Homo sapiens: one gene and its partner. The protein of the gene in region 1 purifies or fractionates together with the protein of each later gene. This does not show direct contact. Each region holds a gene or a part of one and is shown on either strand. Other genes may lie near its edges.

Evidence for each region. The genes of interacting proteins can lie anywhere in the genome.
Region 2: the proteins of PCF11 (region 1) and CPSF2 fractionate together in Homo sapiens (co-fractionation; one large-scale study listed by BioGRID). This does not show direct contact.

The regions. Positions count from the first base shown.
Region 1 is NC_000011.10:83,163,424-83,167,281, forward strand, and holds part of PCF11 (pre-mRNA cleavage complex 2 protein Pcf11), read left to right. Parts: intron 1-255; coding exon 256-444; intron 445-783; coding exon 784-978; intron 979-2,176; coding exon 2,177-3,291; intron 3,292-3,701; coding exon 3,702-3,858. UniProt on the Homo sapiens protein: Component of pre-mRNA cleavage complex II, which promotes transcription termination by RNA polymerase II.
Region 2 is NC_000014.9:92,128,469-92,131,968, reverse strand, and holds part of CPSF2 (cleavage and polyadenylation specificity factor subunit 2), read right to left. Parts: intron 1,019-3,500; 5' UTR 985-1,018; coding exon 836-984; intron 1-835. UniProt on the Homo sapiens protein: Component of the cleavage and polyadenylation specificity factor (CPSF) complex that play a key role in pre-mRNA 3'-end formation, recognizing the AAUAAA signal sequence and interacting with poly(A) polymerase and other factors to bring about cleavage and poly(A) addition.

The sequences.
Region 1 (3,858 bases):
TAAGATGTGGAAACGTTTTGTATATAGAAAGGCTCACCTGGTTGGTTGCTTGCATGAAGGCTAGGTGAAAATGGTTTTAATTACTCTGTTTTTGAAGGAGAAATGCACCTTTAATAAATTATTACTGTTGTATATACTTACCAATGGGTAGTACAGTTCTGTATGTGAAGTAGAGCAGATTTATATAACTTATATTTAATATATAAAATATTCTATAGTAACTTAACAAGCCATAGAATTGTTCTGTTGTTCTAGGTGGATGAAAATACTAGGAAAAGTTTATTTAAGTTACGTTCTACATGGGATGAAATATTCCCTTTGAAGAAACTTTATGCCCTGGATGTCAGAGTCAATTCATTAGATCCTGCTTGGCCTATTAAACCTCTACCCCCCAATGTGAATACGTCTAGCATCCATGTGAATCCTAAATTTTTAAATAAATCGGTAAGTTTTAATATGAATAGTAAGTAACATACTTTTAAGTATCACATTTTGAATTCTTCTGCAGAACTTACTGCCAGAAAGTCAAAATAGAATACTCGGTAGTGAATTGGTTCAATTTGAAAAAAAAAAAAATAGTGTGTATATGTTTGGAATTTTTATTTAGAAATATATTCACCTTGTTTAGGTATTATGTAACATTTATTTTGGGTTTTAAATTTCTGATAAGTTTTCTGTGTGATAGGAATTTGGATCATATTAAGAGTTAAGCTGATAATTTTTACTCCCTAGCTTCCGTTTTAGCTGATACGTTTTTCTTAAACAAATTGTCTTTTCTTATAGCCCGAGGAGCCTTCAACACCTGGTACAGTGGTCAGTTCCCCTAGCATCTCCACTCCTCCAATTGTTCCTGATATACAAAAGAATCTTACACAAGAACAACTAATAAGGCAGCAGTTACTGGCAAAGCAAAAACAGTTGTTAGAACTTCAGCAGAAAAAGCTGGAGCTTGAGCTAGAGCAAGCTAAGGCACAGTTGGTAAGTAAGGGAGATTGTCATTTTAAATATTTTAAACCTGTCTAACAATAGGGAAGTAATGTTTATGTTTGAATTTTATTAACATGTTACTTTTATTAATAGTGTACTCTTTTTTCACTTTTATTTTACAAATGAGTATATTTATTAGACTATACTTTTATATCTTTATTGTAAAATTCACTTGATTAAAAACTGCATAGGCCAGGCGCAGTGGATCATGCCTGTAATCCCAACACTTGGGAAGTCTGAGGTGGGAGGATCGCTTGAGTTTAGGAGTTTGAGGCCAGCCTGGGCAACATAGTGAGGCCCTACCAAAAAAAAAAAAATTAGCCAGGTGGGGTAGTGCATCCTTGTGATCCCAGCTACTCGAGAGGCTGAGTTGGAAGGATCACTTGCGGCTGCAGTGTGCTATGATTGCTTCACTGCACTCTAGCTTGAGTGACAGATCAAGACCCTGTCTCAAGAAAACCCTCCAAAAACTACAAAACTACACTATTTCCTCCAAACAGTTTTCTGTTAGATTGCTATCTTATAAAATAGCATCTTAATTTTGTTTAATCATTACATTATGTGGACTTAATATTTCAGTCCCAAGATGGTAGGCATGTTGTGGCAAATATTTTTGCATAGTCTTTAATGTTTTATGAGCTTATGCTCCATGAACAGAAATGACAAAATTAAGGAGGCCAGGAAGATTATATCTTTCTACACATAAATGACTTTATACTAAGTTATTTTGCTTAGCATCTGAGCTTATTCGACAGTGAGGTGCAGGAAGGCAGAATTTTATAAGTTCATTAATAGCACCACTTTGGGAGAAACTAAATTTTAGGACTTAGAATTTAGCTGAAATGACTCTGATTCTTGTGCAGCCGGAGTGTAGTGATTTAGCAATTTCTTAGGAGCAGTATGGCTCAGAATCCTGAACAATAAGGAAGAGAAACAATTTTTTTTCATTCTATTTAGAGATTATATTATAAAGTCTCAAAAAATACTAGTAAGAAATAATGGGCAACTTAAATCATGGACTTTTTCTTTTCATTGTAATCTCAATTTATACATTATAAGTGTACAATTTAAATGTAGTGTTGAGTAAATATATTTATTGAATAAAGCATTATCTTCTTCAGTTGTTTGCAATTTCTTGACAATCTGCATGTTCTGCAGTGTTAACATGAACATTTATTTTGTGTTTTAGGCAGTTTCTCTTAGTGTTCAGCAGGAAACATCCAATTTAGGTCCTGGATCTGCACCATCCAAATTACATGTTTCACAGATTCCCCCTATGGCAGTTAAAGCTCCTCATCAGGTTCCTGTGCAATCTGAGAAAAGCCGTCCAGGACCATCCTTACAAATTCAGGATTTAAAAGGAACTAACCGGGATCCTCGTCTGAACAGGATAAGCCAACATTCTCATGGAAAAGATCAGAGTCACAGGAAAGAATTTCTAATGAACACATTAAACCAGTCTGATACTAAGACAAGTAAAACTATACCCTCTGAAAAACTAAATTCATCCAAGCAAGAAAAAAGTAAATCAGGTGAAAAAATAACCAAGAAAGAACTTGACCAATTAGATTCTAAATCGAAATCGAAATCGAAATCACCCTCACCTTTGAAAAACAAATTATCTCACACAAAAGACTTGAAAAATCAAGAATCGGAAAGTATGAGGTTGTCTGATATGAACAAGAGAGATCCAAGATTAAAAAAACATCTTCAGGATAAGACCGATGGCAAAGATGATGATGTGAAAGAGAAGAGAAAAACTGCAGAAAAAAAGGATAAAGATGAGCACATGAAGTCATCCGAACACAGACTGGCTGGAAGTAGAAATAAAATCATAAATGGCATTGTACAAAAACAGGATACAATAACAGAAGAGTCAGAAAAACAGGGGACAAAACCAGGGAGATCGAGTACTAGAAAGCGATCAAGATCTCGATCACCCAAGTCTAGGTCACCAATTATACATTCCCCAAAGAGAAGAGATAGGCGGTCACCCAAACGAAGGCAAAGAAGTATGTCTCCAACATCGACACCTAAAGCTGGAAAGATTCGCCAATCTGGAGCTAAGCAGTCACATATGGAAGAGTTTACACCACCTTCTAGGGAAGACAGAAATGCTAAGAGAAGTACTAAACAGGATATTCGGGATCCAAGGCGAATGAAAAAGACTGAAGAGGAGCGACCACAAGAAACTACAAATCAGCATTCTACAAAGTCAGGCACTGAACCAAAGGAGAATGTAGAAAACTGGCAAAGTTCCAAGTCTGCCAAAAGATGGAAATCTGGTTGGGAAGAAAATAAAAGGTATGATGTTAACATTTTAAGTCAAGTGTAGTAGTGTATATGTTTCAAAAGATAGTGTTAATTTAAAAATTGGAAAATGTTTATTAGGTGCTATTAGTACTTTTTTTCCATCTAATTCTTACATCTCTGTGGGTTAAATACTATTATTATTTCTATTTTACAGATAAGGAAACTGAAGTTTAGAAAGGTTAACTAATCTACCTAAGGCTGCAGTCCAGGACATGCAAGAATCAGAATTCATATCTGTTTTTGCTGATTTCATATTTTGTGCTCTTAATCATTTATTTAATTACTTTTTGTGGTTACATATGCCCATTTTAACCATATCCTTTGAAAAGAATCTTTAAATATGGTCCTGAGTATTTTTTAAAAAAACATTTCAATGTAACATACTGCTTTTATGGTTTCAGCTTACAACAGGTTGATGAACATAGTAAACCTCCTCATCTGAGGCATAGGGAGAGCTGGTCAAGCACTAAAGGAATTTTATCACCTCGAGCCCCAAAGCAGCAACAGCATCGATTAAGTGTAGATGCCAATCTTCAGATTCCTAAAGAGTTAACTCTT
Region 2 (3,500 bases), on another chromosome or scaffold:
AATTAATAAAATGGTTTGGATTTTTTTTCTCAAGTTCTAAAGTTTTTTAAATATTTAAGTCCTCTTTTCTTGCAAAATTAGTATAATACTGCAAACATCATTGACTTTTTATTTTATCTTATTTTTTTTTTGAAACAGAGTCTTGCTTTGCGCCCAGGCTGGAGTGTAGTGGTACGATCTCGGCTCAGTGCAATCTCTGCCTCCTGGGTTCAAGCAATTCTCCTGCCTCAGCCTCCCAAGTAGCTGGGATTATAGGTGCACACCATCACACCCGGCTAATTTTTGTATTTTTAGTAGAGTTGGAGTTTCACCATGTTGGCCAGGCTGGTCTCGAACTCCTGAACTCAAGTGATCTGCCCACCTCAGCCTCCTAAAGTACTGGGATTGCCAGCGTGAGCCACTGTGCCCAGCCCATAATTGATTTTTTTTTTGATGAATCAGTATCTCATGGTCATTCTGAGAACCAGCTGACAATGTTAAGCATCAAAAGATGTAGAAAGTAAGCTAATGTGATCTGACCACAGAACTTTCACATGGAAAATGTTTCCTCTTCTCAAATTCTTATGTATTCTTGTTCTTTCCAAAAATTAGCATGCAAAAGTTTCTACTGAAATCCATTAGCTTAAGATTTTGCTGAATTTCAACAAGCAAAGCTTATAAGTCAATCAAAACTTTACAAGTTAAAATGTCACTATAGGTTTTTGGCATAAGTAAAATTAAGCCTTTTGCTATAAACTAGTGTAAAAAGGCAGTATTTATCACATCGAAATGGTATTACAGTACAGAAAAGAGAAGTTGATTTAATAAAAACATAGAATTATGAAATGTAACTTACTTCCTCAGGGAATCAATAATATCCATAGAAAAGTGCTCATCCCAGCCACAGTCCAATAAAAATCTAAACTCATCAACTTGGAGAAGATAGCAAAGGGCAGATTCTTCTTGGACCCCAGAAAGGGTAGTTAATTTGATAATAGACGTCATTTTTTTTGGTCCAGAAACAGCAAGCTAGAAGAGTCTTTCAAATGAAATGAAAACATAATTAAACATAAAAGCACAGTCTGGCATATATAATAAACAAATTGATTAAAATTATTTCAAATCTTTAAGTGCATAGAAATTCCATTAACACGAAAAGCAGTTTAAAGGCCCATTTCCATCATTGCCAAGTTTACTTTTTTTTTTTAAGTGAAAGCAAGTTTATTAAGTCACTGCCAAGTTTAAAAGCACAAAGATAATCTTAGACACAATGAGCCCTTTAGTGGCTCCCTAGTGGGGTAGTGAATGTTGCAATCAAATAGACCCATATATGAATCTACTTCTATGTGATTTGAAGCAAGTTAATTAAACTTTCCTCACCTATGTATCTCAGTCTATAAAACATTAGTATTAGTATACATGTAAAAACAATGTTGAAGTATTTCAAATAATGTATAAATTACCTATAACAGATACTACTGCATCCAAGTTCCTCAATAAATAAATGTTTAGGAATTAATGAACTCATCCTTCAAGGTGAATCTCTTCCTCTTTTATCTTGCTTTGTGATGGCACTGATTTCACTGTATTACAATGATTAGTTTACATGTCTTTCTCTCCCATTAATTAGACCAGTGGTCCTTAAATAGATCCCCTTGAGAATCTGATAAAAACCTATGGACCCTCCCCCTCCCCCACCAACTCTCAACACACTCAAACAAAAAACAAGAGTACATATACACGTAGAAATTCACAAACTTTTCAGGGAGTTTAACATTAAGAACCCTTGCATTGGAATGTGAGCAACTGAAAAACATAGGTGGCATATGTTTGCAACTCCCTAAATAGAACCTGATGCACGCTTCAACATATATCTGATGAAATGCAAATTGGGATGCCTACTACATATATTTCAGGAAAATATAACATGAACACATCTACAGGCCAGGCACGGTGGCTCACGCCTGTGATCCCAGCACTTTGGGAAGCCGAGGCAGGAAGACTGCTAGAGTTCAGGAGTTTGAGACCAGCCTAGGCAATGTAGTGAGACCCTGTCTCTACAAAAAAAAAATATAAGAAAACTGGCTGGTGGCATGTACCTGTAGTCCTAGCTACTCAGAAGGCCAAGATGAGAGAATTGCTTGAGCCCAGGAGTCCGAGGTTACTGTGAGCTATGAGTGCGCCACTAGACTGGGCACAGAGTGAGACCCTAGAGTGTACCCTAGACTGGGCAACAAAGTGAGACTTTGTATCTAAAAAATAAATAAAATAAAATATATACATTTTTTAAAAATGGGATTTAGAACCTGGAACTGTGTGCTATTAAGCAGAAGTTATGAAAATATTCATTAGCAAAGTTCAACTCCACAGCAACATTTCAGATTTTAGCTCCCTAAAATAAATGAGCTTTTCCTGGCTAACTATGCAAGTAGGAGAGAAGGCCACCGAGTTACCTAATAATTTCTTACCACTACTCAAGGCCATCAACAAACTAAGGTAAACTGAATATCCACCTTTCATAAGAGGCTGACAGGGGCTGCTAAACCCACCACATCTCCCAGCCTTGTTTATCTGAGTGACAGCCAAAATCACAAGACTGCTAGGTTATCAATTATCAACGATGTGTACGTCTCCCAGTAAGACCTAATCCCCTACCTCTTCTCCCTCTCAAATCCTTTCAGGATGCTCTCTGGAACTGTGATCATACTCACCTGTAACTGCAACTGCTTCTCTGAAAATTCTCTTCACCTGCTTGTCTTCCCAGGTACCTGGCTGTTCCCTCATCATACTCTTCCTCTTACGGCCTTCTCAAGGTTTTTTGTTGTTGTTGTTTTAACTTCTTGTACCCCCTGTACTTGAAAAGCAGGAGGTATGTGTTCCTTGCTCCTCACTGCAGCTTCTAAACCATGTCTTCTCTTTCCTCTTTCAAATAGTCTAGTCCCATTAAAGCTCTTGCCACCCAGCAGTTCACTATTAGTCTTCCACATTTCCTCTTCACTATGGCATCTATTCACCTGGCCTCATTCACTGAGGACTTTTACATGACCCGTTGTTCCTCTCAGTAACTTCAATACTGACCTGTTGGTTCCTTGACTTCCTCAACTCCAATAATCATTTCACTTCAGCCACCCACCACTACGATTACACCCTAGACCTTATCACTACCAGTAACTGTTCTACTTTCAAAATTTCACTTCAAGCATCTCATTCTCTAACACCTTACTTACTCTAGTATTCCCATTGCAAAAATCCTCTGGGGTCAGTGGTATCTCTCTAATTCGCTGACTACTTTTTCCCTATCCATGACCCCCTCCTGTTTTTACTCAGGTCCTCACCTTCAATTCATGATCTGTTAACATTATTTGCAAACACTCAAATGTCTTGCTCCTCTAGGTACTTCTCTCTACTAGGCTGGCAAAACCCCAGTCCTGATTAACTCCAATCATGCAGGGCCGGCGGGGGGATGGGATATGGAGGAGAATTACAGCTGTGCTATTTGCTTTTTTTTGAGACGGAGTCTC